Regions from separate parts of the Homo sapiens genome. Here region 2 is linked to region 1. The links come from fine-mapping of genetic effects on gene expression. Tissue or cell type: whole blood. Region 1 holds a variant in brackets; the other region holds the start of a gene. All regions are shown on one strand. Distances are between the middles of the regions.

What was found. PIP is the estimated chance that this variant, and not a neighbour inherited with it, causes the effect.
Region 2: it holds the start of SCAF8, and the variant in region 1 is fine-mapped to the expression of SCAF8 in whole blood (TOPMed, PIP 0.93).

What each region holds. Positions count from the first base shown.
Region 1 is chr6:154,864,946-154,873,130 of GRCh38, reverse strand. No RefSeq gene overlaps it. Among named protein-coding and RNA genes, the nearest start is that of MIR1273C, 16 kb to the right of the region's middle. The variant C/AC (reference allele first, on the strand shown) is at 3,460.
Region 2 is chr6:154,730,311-154,738,495 of GRCh38, reverse strand. It overlaps SCAF8 (SR-related CTD associated factor 8), which reads right to left and starts at 5,080. Exons shown (of 20, transcript NM_014892.5): 1 at 4,566-5,080. The coding sequence starts at 4,595. RefSeq lists silencers at 4,308-4,907, 5,058-5,177, 5,208-5,447 and an enhancer at 4,544-5,047.

The sequences.
Region 1 (8,185 bases):
GGTGATAAAGGCTCTGGTGGTTAAGGAGATGATGTTCCAAAATGCAGAAAGGGGTACTGGGACCCAAAATAGAGGGGGAATTGAAAGACAATTTCTGGCTTTCTCAGCCTTTTTCCTGAGACCACTCCTGTTTCACATGACTCTGCTAGTTAAGGAGGTAAGAATGTATCTGTAATCTGAACCAGGGCACCTGCTGCTGATAGACTCCTACTGCCTACAAGAGAAACTGCAAGCTCTTAGCTGGGCAGTGAGGGCCCCTCACAACCGGAGGGGCCAAGCAGAGCTACTCCCTGCCCTCCATTCACTCCATACCCTTTCATGCCTTCCAGTAACCCCTGCAAATGCACTTCACTTCCAGCAAGCTGCAGGACGCCCGTCAAGTGCCAATTTCTCTAATCGCCTTCCCTACTCCACCCCTTTCCACGGTTCATGGATGCATTTCCACAGCACGCTGCCACATCTCTGCCATGGCGCCAATCACTCTGTCCAGTAATTACCTTCCTGACTGCATTGTGGATTCCTCAAGGGCAGAGACCTTGCTTTCTTTTAGCGTGTGCCTGGTGCCTATGTGTTTGCTGAATAAATGAATGCATTCAGTGTAGGGATGATACATTCATTCAAGTCTTAATCAGGTTAAAAGTTTAGAATTTTAAAATGATACAGAGTATTTTCCAAGCTTAGAGCTTCCATATACCCAGAAGAAATGCCAGTCATCCCCAAGCATAAATTTAAGAAATTAATTTTTGCCTTCAAATACTTCTATTAATATGCAATAAAATTACTGTATTATTTAAGCATTTTAAAGAAGGAAAATATTGAGTAAAAATATTCCAGCCGGGCATAGTGGCTCAAACCTGTAATCCCACCATTTTGGGAGGACGAAGCAGGTGGATCACTTGAGGTCAGGAGTTCGAGACCAGCCTGGCCAACATGGCAAAACCCCAACTCTACTAAAAATACAAAAACTAGCCAGGAGTGGTGGTGCATGCCTGTAATCCCAGCTACTCGGGAGGCAGAGGCAGGAGAATCACTTGAACCCGGGAGGTGGAGGTTGCAGTGAGCCAAGATCATGCCACTGCACTCCTCCCTGGGCGACAGAGAAAGACCCTGTCTAAAACAATAACAACAATAAAAAACCTTAATATTCCAAAAGTTACAAGAGTTTATCATAGTGGAAAAAAGTTACTGAAAAGTGACCTAAATAGTGTTCTATTTCCTGAGCCTCCATAAACAAATTATTTGCAAAATATATCTCAATACAATGTCACTCTGTTAACTAAAATAAGTTCTCTCCAATAGTCTTAGTTATTAAACTTATAAAATACCTGGAAAGCAGTGAAAAGTAATTATTCTTTTTTTTGTGGGGGATGGAGTCTCACTCTGTAGCCCAGGCTGGAGTGCAGTGGCACGATCTCGGCTCACTGTAACCTCCGCTACCCGGGTTCAAGCGATTCTCTTGCCTCAGCGTCCAGAGTACCTGGGATTACAGGCGCGTGCCACCACGCCTGGCTAATTTTTTGTATTTTTAGTAGAGACGGGGGTTTCACCGTGTTGGTCAGGCTGGTTTCAAACTCCAGAGCTCAGGCAATCTACCCACCTCGGCCTCCCAAAGTGCTGGGATTACAGGTGTGAGCCACCTGCCCAGCCGATTTTTTTTTATCTTGTAAAAAAACCAACCTGTAACTTAGATTTATAAAACAGGTGGTGATGCCATATATTCCAGGAGAAGTTCCTTCTGTCTCCTAGCCATTAGACCACCTGGATTATTGGACATAATTCAGCATTCTGGACTCACTACACATAACAGACCCTAATATAGCTGGGGGAAACATACAAAAAAGAGGCCTACTTCTGTCTTTGATAGCTGATTTATAGAAGTTAAAATACAATCATGTTTAAGAAATAGCTGGTATCATATTGTACTACGGAATGTTTTATTCCAGGCTGTTTCACCTTTGTGTGTGTGTGTTTTGGGGTGGGGGGGAGGTGGTGAGAGGGAGTATTCACACATGTGACTCATTTAAAAATCTGAGCACAGGCCGGGTGTGGTGGCTCATGCCTGTAATCCCAGTACTTTGAGAGGCCGAGGCAGGTGGATCACCTGAGGTTAGGAGTTTGAGACCAGCCTGGCCAACATGACAAAACCCCATCTCTACTAAAAATACAAAAATTAGCCGGGCATGGTGGCACATGCCTGAATCCCAGCTACTCGGGAGGCTGAGACAGAATTGTTTGAAGCCAGGAGGCGGAGGCTGCAGTAAGCCGAGATCGCGCCACTGCACTCCAGCTGGGCAACAGAGCAAGACTCCATCTTTAAAAAAATAAAAAAATCTGAGCACGGATTTTTGGGTATTATGGTAATACGGCATATAATTTCAAGGAATACCATGGTCAACCTTATTAACACCCTTGGCCTAAGAAATATATGGCTCTTAAGTTAATCAGAAAGTTGGTGTAGTTCATGGCCTTCCATCTAGTCTAGGGAAACCTGACCATCCCTAAAGAAAGGCCAGATGTTTATGAGACATCACATTTGGGTAATTTTTCTGCCAGTTCACCTACCTATAATAGATGATAGCAAGTTGGAACCAAAATGTCTCACTACAGTTGGTTTATCCCACCTACATAGAGGCAGTGACTATGTAGATAATTGCTTAGGGATACGGGGTTTAAAAGTATATAGTGAACATAAAAATTTTAGCTAGTATCAGTCTCACCTTTCAAGACCAAATTTATACCTACAAAAATGTGTCTATATATTTCTGTGCCAGATATTGGTTTCCCTCACTACGAATTGGTATGTGGGTAATAAACTTTGATTACATAGAATTTGAAAGTTAAGCCAGGCATGGTGGCTCACGCCTGTAATCCTAGCACTCTGGGAGGCAGGGGCGGGCGGACTGTCTGAGCTCAGGAGTTCGAGACCAGCCTGGGCAACATGGCGAAGCCCTGTCTCTACTAAAAAAATACAAAAAAATTAGCCAGGCACGGTGGCGCACGGCTGTAGTCCCAGCTACTCAGGAGGATGAGGCACAATAATCGCTTGAACCTGGGAGGCGGAGGTTGTAAGCTGGAGCGCACTGCACTCCAGCTTGGGTGACAGAGCAAGACTCTGTCCCCCCACCACCCCCACCAAAAAAAAAAAAAAAAAGAAAGTTAATAAAGTTAATAGAGAGTCCAAATACGAATAATCAAATTACTGCTTTAAAATTTTTAATGGGTCTGTTGAAGACAAATGCACAAATGCCTTATAAATGACCTAACAGATTTCTAATGTGAAAAAATACTATAAAAATTGGAATGCTATAGAGAAATACTGAAAAAAATACTGTATTTTGTGACTTTCACTGAAACTAGGACATTTAATTGCAAAAAAAGCATCAATATGAGTCACTAAAAACAGCAACTAAAAATGTGATTATGTACTCCACAGAAAAAATTCCAGATTTAAAAAAAAAA[C/AC]TCATTGTACAAGAATGAGCACAGGAAGAGCTTTAAATAAAAAAAAGTAGAGAAAATTTAAATCATTAAAGATTCTATACACATCTGGTTCCTTGACATAGATGTTATTCATTAAGAGTTAGTGAAAACACAGAATATACTCTGTTTTGATCCTCAGAGAGCAGTCAATAGAGTGAGGTTTAAGAATTCAGCTACCATATCCCAGCATGAGTTCTATTTAGGAAAAAAATGGGTATGCAATTATAGCAGATTGAGTATTTACTACATTCTATGTACTATTCTAAGTACTTTACCTATATAACTCAATGACTGCATACCACAATGCTATGAGGCAGGTACTAGTATCAAGCCCATTTTACAGATGTCGAAACAGGTGCAGAAAGGATAACTATAAGATAACCTCATGACTACTAAGTGGCAGAGTCATAACTCAAATCCAGGCACTCTCTCCAGGACCCATGTTGCTAACCACTGCAATGTGCCCTCTGCACTGAAGATGAGAGTGTTAGAGCTGAAGGGAACCATGAAAGCACCTACATTGTATTCTCCTTCTGTAAACTGAGGCCCAATCACATTGGTCTATGATTCCCCGCTGCTTGCTCCATTCACGACATTCCTTTATCACCTTTTACAGCCACCTTCACAGGAACTTGGGTCATTGCACAAGGCTGATTGGAGATTTACACATTTGTTTTGACTATCTGGTAAGGGCACCATTGCAGTTTTATAACAAACCAGCATTTTGTTCAGTTCTCACATACTCCTCTGTTATCAGAAACCTCTGTGGCGATAATCATATAAAACAATATTCTACGAATATTTTGTTGGACACTCAGAGAATCAAACACTATGTAGCATGGACACTATAATACTGTAAACGTCTAAACAGTTTTAATAAGTAAAATCTCATTCTTAAATGGACGACAGTACTGAAAAGAATACCTTTGAAACAATTTTGGATTTGCAAATTAAATGTTAAGAATAGATGAAAAAGTCTCCAACCCCATCTCAGATGCTGAATCTGATGAATGTTAAAGTTCTTTCAAACTCTGAAACTGAGAGTTTGAATGGCTGCTTCTGTGAAATCATAGTTTCTGGTGCTTTGGCTGATTCACCTAAGTATACTATGAGACAGTGTGCCGGGGCTCTACTTAACCTCATCAGAATACGCTTCCATTATGTGGACAGACAGTAACAGGTGACTCTCAGGTGATAGATAACAGGCAAGTGATTTTGTTAAGAGGTGAGGTGGGAGTGGGGTGGGAATTTGGTTACGTTCCCAGAAATATCAATGATTGTTATTAGTTATAACATTCTAGGATAACTAGCTCATGTTATTAGTTATAACATTCTAGGATAACTAGCTCATCCCTAGAAGCAAGCACTGGGTTTCCTTTTATAGGTGCACAGTGACCTCTACTGGTACAAGTATAGAATCCCGAAGTGCAATTTGCTCCGTAAGTGATTTTCGGAGGCACAACTAAGAATATTTATTCTTTGAAAAGGACACCAAAAAGAAAAGATACAATTTTAAAAATACTTACTTTTTGAAACCTTTTATAATTTTCAATTAATGAGATCTCCTCCTCTACCAGAATTAGACATTTCAATTAAAGTTGTCCATACACATAATATCACAGAATGCAAAGAACTAAACAGTACTTTAATTTAAAAATCCTGCTGCTAAGTGTTATGGTGTCAAAAGTGCTATAAAATATAATTATTTTGGAATAACTCCAATTTACCCAAAAAGTACCAAAGACACCAATTATAGAAGAATTATAGCGTATATTTAAAATTTGCAAAATGCTTTGAAACTTTGCATTGTTGAATGCTAAGTAGCTCACCTTCCCACAGATATTTTGCTTCCTTGATTTTAAAACAATTAAAGTATTGGTTTTCTCTCTTAAATCCCAAAGGCTATCAGAAATAAACTGTAGGTAGGTTTATTACATTTAAAGAAACTTCCAATAGGCAAGTTTTACCTGCATGTGAAACAATGCCAAGTGAGATGCTGACGTCAAAGACAGCCTCCATATATGTCATTATTTGTCATGCACATCAAAATACTGTACAAGAGTTCAAAGGAAAATCAGTTTTTAAAAACCCATGGCAATATTTTTAATTATTGTAGGCTGAAATTATTTCCTTCAAACTGTATTTCCGTAACTTTCCACTGCAGAAAATGAAGTAGAAAAGAATTTAAAATGATACTTTTCAGTGATGAACACTCAAACCAAATTTCATTCCAAGAGCGGGAGAATACAGCATCCTTAATCTTGCCCATTTTGTTTGTTTTAACAAAGTATAATAAAAATAGCTGTGAACTAGTGAGTTAGCCAGTTTTTGCCCAGAATACATGTAACAGAGTTCCTTTTCAAGAAATTATTCATTGCTTAGTAAGAGTAATGAATTGGGAAAAATGAAGACATTTTTATTTAACTTTGATAACTAGGACTTGCATATGTGTATGGCACATCTCACTATTTCTGTTTATTAATTAATCAGCCCATATTTGCTGTACTACATGCAAGGCACTGCTGGGGATACAAGGGTGACAAGGCATAGTCCTTGCTCCTAAGGAACCAGCACTTAGGGAAAATATGACTGCTATACAAGTAACTATAAGAACATATTTTATTTCATTATTTTATTTTGAGATGGAGTCTTGCTCTGGCACCCAGGCAGGAGGGCAGTGGCGCGATCTCGGCTCACCGCAACCTCTGCCTCCCAGGTTCAAGCGATTCTCGTACCTCAGCCTCCCGGGTAGCTGGGATTACAGGCGTGCACCATCATGCCCAGCTAATTTTTGTATTTTTAGTAGAGACAGGGTTTCGCCACGTTGGCCAGGCTGGTCTCGAACTCCTGACCTCAGGTGATCTGCCCACCTTGGCCTCCCAAAGTGCTGGGATTACAGGCATAAGCCACCGCGCCCAGCCTATAAGGACATATTTTAAATAATTCGCCCTTAAAAGATGGAGTTTTTACTAAAAAATGATCTAAACTTTTCATACAACTCCCTACTGCCTCCCTCCCCTACCCCTGCCCCACATAATAATATCTGTAGCCACCTTGTGGGGCCCTGCTTCTGCAGACCTGTAAATGTCTTCTCTTTCCTTTCATATTTTGGGCATCAGATGGGGAAAATTATGCTTCTGGCTCAAGGAATATCCGTATTAACCACTGTTAAAGCAATTGCTGGGCCAGGCATAGTGGCTCATGTCTGTAATCTCAGCAATTTGGGAGGCCAAGGTGGGAGGATCGCCTGGGCCCAGGAGTTTGAGACCAGCCCAGGCAATATAGCAGGACCTCCCCTCTACAAATAATTTTTAAAATCAGCTGGGTATGGTGGTTCCTTTCTGTGGTCCCAGCTACTCAGGAGGCTGAGGCAAGAGAATTGCGTGAGCTCAGGCAGTCAAAGCTGCAGTGAGCTGAGATCATGCCACTGCACTCCAGACCCTGTCTCAACCCCCTACCCCGGCCCCGCCAAAAAAAACAACCCACAATTGCCACCACACAACTCCTACTCAAATAATCATATCAGTAAAATATGTCCTAGGATCACATAGTGAATAGACACATACTAACAGCTTTCAGTAGTGAAAGGTGAAGAGAAAGAGTGAAGCCTCATGGTGAATCCATCAGGGCCTGGCCTCTGTTTTGTACTCTCTACTCTCAGCCTACAGGATAATGCTTTACTCACATAAGGATAACACAGGACACTACAAAAGCAATTTTCTAAAAGTTAACTCTAATTCCCTGAAAACATTCATGGGTTTTAAAATTATAAACATTAAATCACAGCCGGGCATGGTGGCTCACACCTGTAATCCCAGCACTTTGGGAGGCCGAGGTGGGTGGATCACTTGAGGTCAGGAGTTCGAGACCAGCCTGGCCAACATGGCAAAACCCCCTCTCTACTAAAAACACAAAATTAGCCAGGTGTGATGGTGGGCACCTGTAATCCCAGCTACCTGAGAAGCTGAGGCAGGAGAATTGCTTGAACCCAGGAGACAGAGGTTGCAGTGAGCCAAGATTACGCCACTGCAATCCAGCCTGGTTGACAAGAGTAAAACTCTATCTCAAAACAAAACAAAACATTACATCAAGAAATTCCATGTGACTACTGAATCCCTGAGAGTGCTCTAAAATAACATGTCTAAGAAAAGAAAAACATCCTTCCAAACTCTGTCAAGACTGGGTAGAACAGAGAGAACAGGAAACAGCTGAAATGCTCCTCAGTAGAGGACTGGAGCACCATGGGAAACTGCAGATACTGGGTACAACAGAAAAACAGGAAACGTGTTTCTCAGGAGAAAATTGGTTAACTAGGGCCAGGCACGGTGGCTCACACCTGTAATCCCAGTACTTTGGGAGGCCGAGGTGGGCGGATGACCTGAGGTCAGGAGTTCGAGACCAGCATGGCCAACATGGTGAAACCCCATCTCTACTAAAAAAAAAAAAAAAAATACAAAAATTAGCCGGGCATGGTGTCAGGCGCCTGTAATCCCAGCTACTCGGGAGGTTGACGCAGAAGAATCGCATGAACCTGGGAGGCAGAGGTTGCAGTGAGCCGAGATCACGCCATTGCACTCTAGCCTGGGAGACAAGAGCAAGGCTTCATCTCAAAAAAAAAAAAAAAGAAAGAAAATTGGTTAAGTAAATTATGGTTAAGCAAATAGCAGAATATTATGCAGGCATTACAAATGATGTGCAGCTTATATGC
Region 2 (8,185 bases), 130 kb after region 1:
ACAAAATTAGCATGGGGCACTTAAAAAATAAATTATTGAGCCTAAATCTCATTTAACTCGTGAGAAGAAAAATTTACCACATAATTCCTGCACAATTAAAGGATCTTCTGACATAGTAATTTTTAACACAGAAGTGAAAGGTCAACTCCTTTGAGAAATTATGGTAGGGAGGGTAGACATGACAAAAACAACTCATACATATCTTGCATGAAGTCTGGGATTTTCATAGCTGAAACTCATCCACAGTTTGCAGATTAAAAATCTGTATTATTGGGGTTTTCTTTTCTTTTTTTTTTTTTTGAAGCAGAGTCTCACACTGTTGCCCAAGCTAGAGTGCACTGGCTATTCACAGGTGCAGTAATTGCACTCTATAGCCTCGAACTCCTGGGCTCAACAGATCCTCCCACCTCAGCCTCCCAAGTAGCTAAGACTACAGACACACACCCACAATTCACAAAAATCTGTATTCCTAAAGTCTCTGGCATCTTCCTGGTTTTCAAACCAATGATCTCCACAAAATTAAAAGATGGGGGTGACAAAATTCAGTCTGGAAAAACCTGAGCCTTAGCAAGCCATAAAAGGTTAAGTATTTTGTATTTTAAACATTTAATTTGGGGCAGGCACCACGGCTTAGGCCTGTAATCCCAGCACTTTGGGAGGGGAGGTGGGCAGATCACCGGAGCTCAGGAGTTCATGACCAGCCAGGGCAACATGGCAAAACCCCATCTCTACAAAACAAAAACAATTAGCCCGGCGTGGTGACCTGTCAACAGCGAGTACCTGTCTCAATTTTTCTGATTCAGGGTCGCACTGTTGCCCGGGCCAGAGTGTAGTGGTGCAGCTCACTGCAGCCTCCACCTTCCTGGGTCATGAGATCCTCCCACCTCAGCACCTGCCCCCTCCTTTACACCCCCTTCACCCATGTTGGGACTACAGGCACATGCCACCGTGACCAGCTAATTTGTGTTGTTGTTGTTGTTTTGTAGAGATGGGGGTTTCGCCATGCTGGCCAGGCTAGCATGGAACTCCTGAGCTCAAGTCATCTGCCCACCTCGGCCTCCCAAAGGGATGGGATTACAGGCATGACCCATCGAGCCCAGCCTATTTTAAATATTTTAAGGTGAAGTATCAAAATATCTTGTTGACAAACGTTCCTGATTATTCTTAGAGCTAAATTTTGATTCCTTACAAAGCAAATGGAATTGACAATTCAATGTTTCAAAGATACCTTTAAATTTAGCAGAGAAGTTGTGATGGATTAAACCCAAAGATAAACACCTTTAAAAGCCAAACTATGAGCGTCGAAAACATCCTTTTCTCCTAATCCTGCAACTAGAATTCCTTTTTAATTTTTGTAATTTGTAACACATAATTTAATGGAAAACAATCATTACTGAACTACTTCTCAGCATATACTTATTTGCAATAACAATGTTTACTACACATCAGCAAATATTACAACATTCACAGAAACTGCATTCAAAATAAAAAACAGTATTATGTATTGTTTTGTGTTTAAAAAAAAAAGTATTTTTCTGAATCTTCTTCAAATATATTTCCCTTCCTCAACTCCCTGACTCTGTACTGCTATTTTTAAGCTAACTCCACTTTGAAACACGGTGAAGTTAGAGCATATAAATAAATAAGGAAGTTACAAGACTTAAGTTCTTTGAAATCCATATGGGGAAATGGGAGAGTGCTACATACACTAAAATGGGACTAAGACAAACCTCAAGTTCCTGTAAAATGAGAAAACAGGTGAAACACCTATCTACACATGTAAATGTTAGGCCCCCTTATCCTTAATTAATATTAAAACGAAAAACTGGAATTAACATTTCTTCCCTACTGTGACCAACCATAGTGCACTAACCACTTGTTTACATCTAATATTTGGGAGCTACTGTTTAAAACGTCATGGATGGGCCAGGCGCAGTGGCTCACGCCTGTAATCCCAGCACTTTGGGAGGCCGAGCCGGGTGGATCACCTGAGGTCAGGAGTTCGAGACCAGCCTGGCCAACGTGATGAAACCCCATCTCTACTAAAAATACAAAAAACTAGCTGGGCATGGCGGTGGGTGCCTGTAATCCCAGCTACTCCGGAGGCTGAAGCAGGAGAATTGCTTGAACCCAGGAGGTGGAGGTTGCATTGAGCCAAGATCTCGCCATTGCACTCCAGCCTGGGCAACAAGAGCAAAACTCCGTCTCCAAAAAAAAAAAAAAAAAAAAAGTCTTGGATGGCCCTTTGAGGGGGAGGACCACATTATTAGGAACCCCCCCAAAGACAGACACCCAACAAAGTGTGTGTGGGGAAGAGGGTGGCGGCGGGAATTAAATCCAATGAGGGCAAAAAACAAAACAAAACGAAATCCCCCAGGCGTGGTGGCTCACATCTGTCATCCCAGCACTTGGGATGCCAAGGTGAAAGGACCGCTTGGGCCCAGGAGTTCAAGAACAGCCTGGGCAACATAACAAGACCTCCTCTCTATAAAAAATAAAAATGACGGGCATGGTGACACTGGCCTGTAATCTCACCTACTTGGGGGGCTGAGGTGAGAGGAGGACCCCTTGGGCCCGGGAGGCAAAGGATGCAGTGAGCCAAGATCACACCACTGCACTCCAGCCTGGGTGACAGAATGACACTCCTCAAAAAAAGAAAGATAGCTATGAAAAAAAATGAAACACCAGGCGCAGTGGCACACGCCCATAATCTCAGCACTTTGGGAGGCCAAGGCGGGTGGATCACTTGAGGTCAGGAGTTTGAGAACAGCCTGGCCAACATGGTGAAACCCCATCTCTACTAAAAATACAAAAATTAGCGGGGCGTGGTGATGTGCGCCTGTAATCCCAGCTACTCGGGACACTGAGGCAGAAGAATCGCTTGAAACCGGGAGGTGGAGGCTACAGTGAGCTGAGATGGTGACACTCCAGCCTGGGTAACAAGAGCGAAACTCTGTCTCAAAAAAAAAAAAAAAAGAAGATTCCCAAGTCTATTGCTCTAATTTATCAATGTTAAAAATAAAAAATGTAGTATTAAAAAAGAAAATGCTTTCCAAAAAAAGTTATGTATCACTGCTATTGAAAATAGCCCAAATATTATCTACCGTTTAGCCTCTTAGCTAAGATTCCCAAATACTGTTTTTCTTTTTAAAGAAATTAAAACAAGATAAAACTATGCAACGGCATTTAAAAGTACTGTCCTATTTGGGCCGTCACAGCAAAAAGCCTCGTATTTTAAGAGGTAAATATTAAAGATACTCTTTAACAATCATAGTATCGAATAAAGTATTGGCACTTTAAGAGTTCATAAAATTTATGCTAATTTAGTTACCAGCATAATTACACTTTTTCTTTTTCTTTTTTTTTTTTTTGTAGACAGAGTCTCACTCTGTCACTGGGCTGGATTGCAGTGGCGCAGATCTCGGCTCACTGCAACCTCCGCTTCCCAGGTTCAAGCGATTCTCCTGCCTCAGCCTCCTAAGTAGCTGGGATTACAGGTGCCTGCCACTACGCCCAGCTAATTTTTTGTATTTTTAGTAGAGACAGGGTTTCACCACGTTGGCCAGGCTGGTCTTGAACTCCTGACCTCGTGATTGGCCCGCCTCGGCCTCCCAAAGTGCTGGGATTACAGGCCTGAGCCACTGTTCCCGGCCATAATTACACTTTCCAAGGCGTACGGGTAGGGATACTAATGCTGACTGTGCAGATGTGTACTTGCTATGTTTGATGTTTACATTAAGGCCTATTGAAGTCGGAGTTTAAAAAGAAATTGAATACATCAAAACCTGTCTTCTTCCAGACTAGTAAATTCAACTACACAGTGAAAATGGAATCTGCTTTTTAAAATCTTGTTTGACACGTGAATGAACCAGCGAGAAATGTTTCCCCCATAATCTTCCATCTCTCGATGCACAGATCTCTCCCTACCATTTGTCTTTATGTCGTGATGGATTAGAAGAGGAGCGAGTAAAAATAAAAGATATTGCAGAATAACCTTTGCCTGCCTACCAACCATCCAATTAGCTCAAGTCCCTAGCTGGCAAATTACCTAGTCAACAATGCCTCAATTATAAACACTACGTGTAACGTGACCACAGATCAACACCCCGTAGGTTCATTTCCCCCACCGCCCCCAATCGGTGTTAGCCTCAGTGAGGACCCGGGAAGGTCTGGAGAGTCATGTCCAGCGTCCACTTAAATCCTCAAAGGCCCAGGAAGGAGGTGGGCGGGCCAGGCCTCGGCGGAACTGACCTCGAGGGACCTGTCGGGAGTCTCCGGGTGAGGGCCCAACCGGGTCTTTCCCTCCGAGCTCGCAGCCATTCCATAGGACGCCGGAGACGCCAGAACCTCCCTCCGCCCCAGGGCGGCCCTCCCCCAACCCTCCTCCCGGACCCGGGGGAGGGGCACCCAGAGGAGAAACACCCCTCCCCCACGGGCACTGCTAGGCCACCGCTCACCCCACCCTTAAAAAACCCGCAGGCCCGCGCCCACCCTCCGGGCCCCGGCCTCGACCAGGGGTGGGGGCGGTGCGGGCAGGAGCAGGGGAACCCGGCTGCCATACCAACCTCGCTATTGAAGGTCTTCACGGCCTCCATGTTGTCGCTGCGGAGGCCCCGAGCCCGGCGGCGGAAGAGGCGGCGGCCACTGCACTGGGTGGGGAGAGCGAGACGCGGGCTGCTGCGTGGCCGCGAGGAGGGGGCGCTGGCGGGAGAGCGGGCCGCTGCGACCTCGGGGCGGAGTGGAAGGGCACGCGCTGGCGGGGAAGGGCTCCCTCAGCGGCAGAGCGGCACCGGCATGGCCGCTAGGGCGGGGGGAGCGCCGTTCTAGGGAACAGAGGCGCTGCCGGGGCGGGTCGGCGGCGGGCGGGGGAGGGGCTGGGCCGCGGCGCCTTCTCTTCTCTGCCCCGCTCCGTTTCGGTCCCCCTCCCTCTAGCCCCTTCCCCTACACTCTCCACTCCCTTCTGCCCCTTCCTCCGACGGGCTCCTGTTTCACCTCCCCGCCGCTCGGGCCGCAGGAACCAGCCCCGCTCGGCGAAGACAGAGGAGGAAGCGCTGGCAGCAGCGGCTGCGGCATCCAATATGGCGGACTCGAGTCGGGCCGCGCAGTTCGGGGATCCGCGGCGCCGGCTAGCGCGCCCCCTGGCGACTGGACCGTGCGAGCCCCGGCGGCCGCGCGGAAACCATCGAGCGCGCTGGGGCCAGAGCGTCGCCGCCCGTAGGCCCGGCTGGGCTCCGCTGCCCTCGCCTTGGCTCCGGGGCCGCCCGCGCCTCGCCCCCTCCCCGCGCCCCGCGGACGCGGGAGTGAGCGCTGCGGCATCCGGGGGAACGCCGCGGCGGGTTTGTACAGCAGGAGGAGGCAACTCCAAAGCGCGGCTCTAATAAGAGCCTAAACGTGCCCAAGAAGCGGCAAGTTGAGGAAATGTGCGCGTTTCCCTTGTTTCCCGGTGGATTGGTCCTTTTGCACAAGCGGCAGGGTTTAGTTGCTTTTCACAACTTTACTGGACAGTGCCCTAAACATCCGCAGCCTTCGCCAAGAAAAAGTTCCTGGTCATCTATTTAGTAACTGAACTCAATTGTTTTAACTGCACAGGGAGGGAACATTAGAAACCAAAGCCTTGGATTCGGGTTGGGGCAGGCGGCGAGGGAAACAGGCATGCAGCAGCTCCTTGCAGGAAATGCCCGCTGCATAGGATCCAGGGACTGGAGTGGCACAATGAGCGCATTTGTCTGCAAGGCGGGAAGGGGACCCTAGAATGCACAACACTTGAATAGGTGAAAAGGGAACCCGTCTGTTTCGGAAGATGAATTGTTCTAAAGGAATTTTGCCCTAGGATACTTGGAGTAAAGGTAAATACAGTATTTCTTAGATGGATTAGGAGATGCTGCTAGTAAAAAGCCTTCTCTCTCGTGCAGCGCAAAATAAGGTACCAATTTAAAAATACTTATCGATGTTAAAAGATAGGGATGTATCGTGGAACCCCGAACACTGCTGTCCTCTTGTTGAAAGTCATTTTTCAACAATCATTCCCAAATTCACTCAAAGGGAGAGAGGAACATAAGGGCAGGATCGTACTTTTGGAGAGTTTTGGAATCAAGGTAGTTCCTAAGAGCTGTGCGCAGAGCCCCGTGAAACTGGGAAAGTAAGGCCCTTCTTGAGGTTTCAGAGCCTTCATTCTACTTCATTGGCAGCTTTAGTATAGGGCCTGGCTACTGAGAAGGTAACAGGGATAACTCACCAAGTGCTTTTATATTTACTTTCAAAATCTCAAATTCTGTCACAGATTTCTCCACCGTCTCCCATCTTCAGGCCTAGCCATGATCTTTTACTGACACTTGCAGTAGCCTCCTAACTGGTCCCTTGCTTGTCTTCCTACAGTTCATTTCCAGACAGTAGCCGAGGGATGTTTTTCTTAGATAAATCAGATCAGGTCACTCCCTTACTTAAATCCCTTAAATACTTTCTCATTGCCCATTTGATACCATCATAACTTCTCACCATGGCCTGAAGGCCCAGCCCAGCCTGCCGCAGCTCACACCACCTTCCCTTGCTCCCTGACTCTCCTCCTGCCACACTGGCCTTTCTGTTACTTGACAAGAAGCAGTGTTTTCATAGGTAGGACAATTGTGTCTCTTCACACAGGGTGCTGTTGCTCTTGTCCTTTCCATAGCTGACTCCTCCTCCTTCAATCTTCCTGAAAGAGGTCCCCTAATCACTCCATCTAAAGGAGCATTTACTGTGGCTTGAGAAAGTACTGCACTCAGTTCTGTGCATGCCAGGTTCTCACAATCAGAAGTCACTGCTTTGAGGCCGGGTGTGGTGGCTCTCGCCTGTAATCCGAGCACTTTGGGAGACCGAGGCGGGTGGATCACCTGAGGTTAGGAGTTCGAGACCAGCCTGGCCAACATGGTGAAATCCCGTCTGTACTAAAAATACAAAAAAAGTAGCCAGGCGTGGTGGCACGCCCTTGTAGTCCCAGCTACTCGGGAGGCCGAGGCAGGAGATTCGCTTGAACCCGGGAGGCGGAGGTTGCAGCGTGCCGAGATCGCGTGACTGCACTCCAGCCGGGGCAACAAGAGTGAAGCTCTGTCTCAAAAAGAGAAACAAAAAAGAAAAGAACGGAAAAAAAAGGCGCTGCTTTGGCCTGTGAGGGATTATTTATTAGGTCATACATGAAATGAGTGTTGATGGAATTACTTAGGCCTGAGAAATTAAAATGCAATACAAGCTAAAGGATAAAATCAGTGGTTAACATGCTTCACAATTTGATTTAATAAAGCTTCCGCATTCAGAATGGTAACAGAGGGCATAGTTTGATCAGGGTAAGCAGAGGGGGAAGATACAGAGAGCAGCCTAAACACAATCTTTTTTTTTGCGGGGTGTTGGGGCGGGGCTGGACGGAGTCTCGCTCTGTAGCCAGGCTGGAGTGCAGTGGCACGATCTCGGCTCACTGCAACCTCCACCTTCTGGGTTCAAGCGATTCTCGTGCCTCAGCCTCCTGAGTAGCGGGGATTACAGGCACGTGCCACCACACCCAGCTAATTTTTGTATTTTTAGTAGAGATGGGGTTTCACCATGTTGGCCAGGATGGTCTTGATCTCCTGACCTTGTGATCCGCTTGCCTTGGCCTCCCAAAGTGCTGGGATTATAGCCGCGCCCGGCTTTTATTTTTTATTTATTTATTTTTTGAGACTGAGTTTTGCTCTTGTCGCCCAGGCTGGAGTGCAATGACGCGATCTCGGCTCACCGCAACCTCCGCCTTCCGGGTTCAAGCGATTCTCCTGCCTTAACCTCCCAAGTAGCTAGGACTACAGGCAACCGACGCCACGTTCGGCTAATTTTTGTATTTTTAGTAGAGACGGGGTTTCACCATGTTGGCCAGGCTGATCTCAAACTCCTGACCTCCAGTGATTCACCCTCCTCGGCCTCCCAAAGTGCTGGGATTACAGGCATGAGCCACCTCGCCCAGCCTAAACACAATCTTAATATAAGAAGGCGATAAAGCAAGAGAAGGGTTAGAGGGGAGCCTGGGGTTCCAGTGCAATGACTATATACAAAATTTATACACAACTACATACAGAGTGTGAAAACAGTACCCGTGTGTGTGTGTCTGTGTGTGTGTGTGTATGTATGTACGCTAGGATTCTGATTGCCAGTATAACCAGCCAATTTGAGCTAGTTTAAGCAT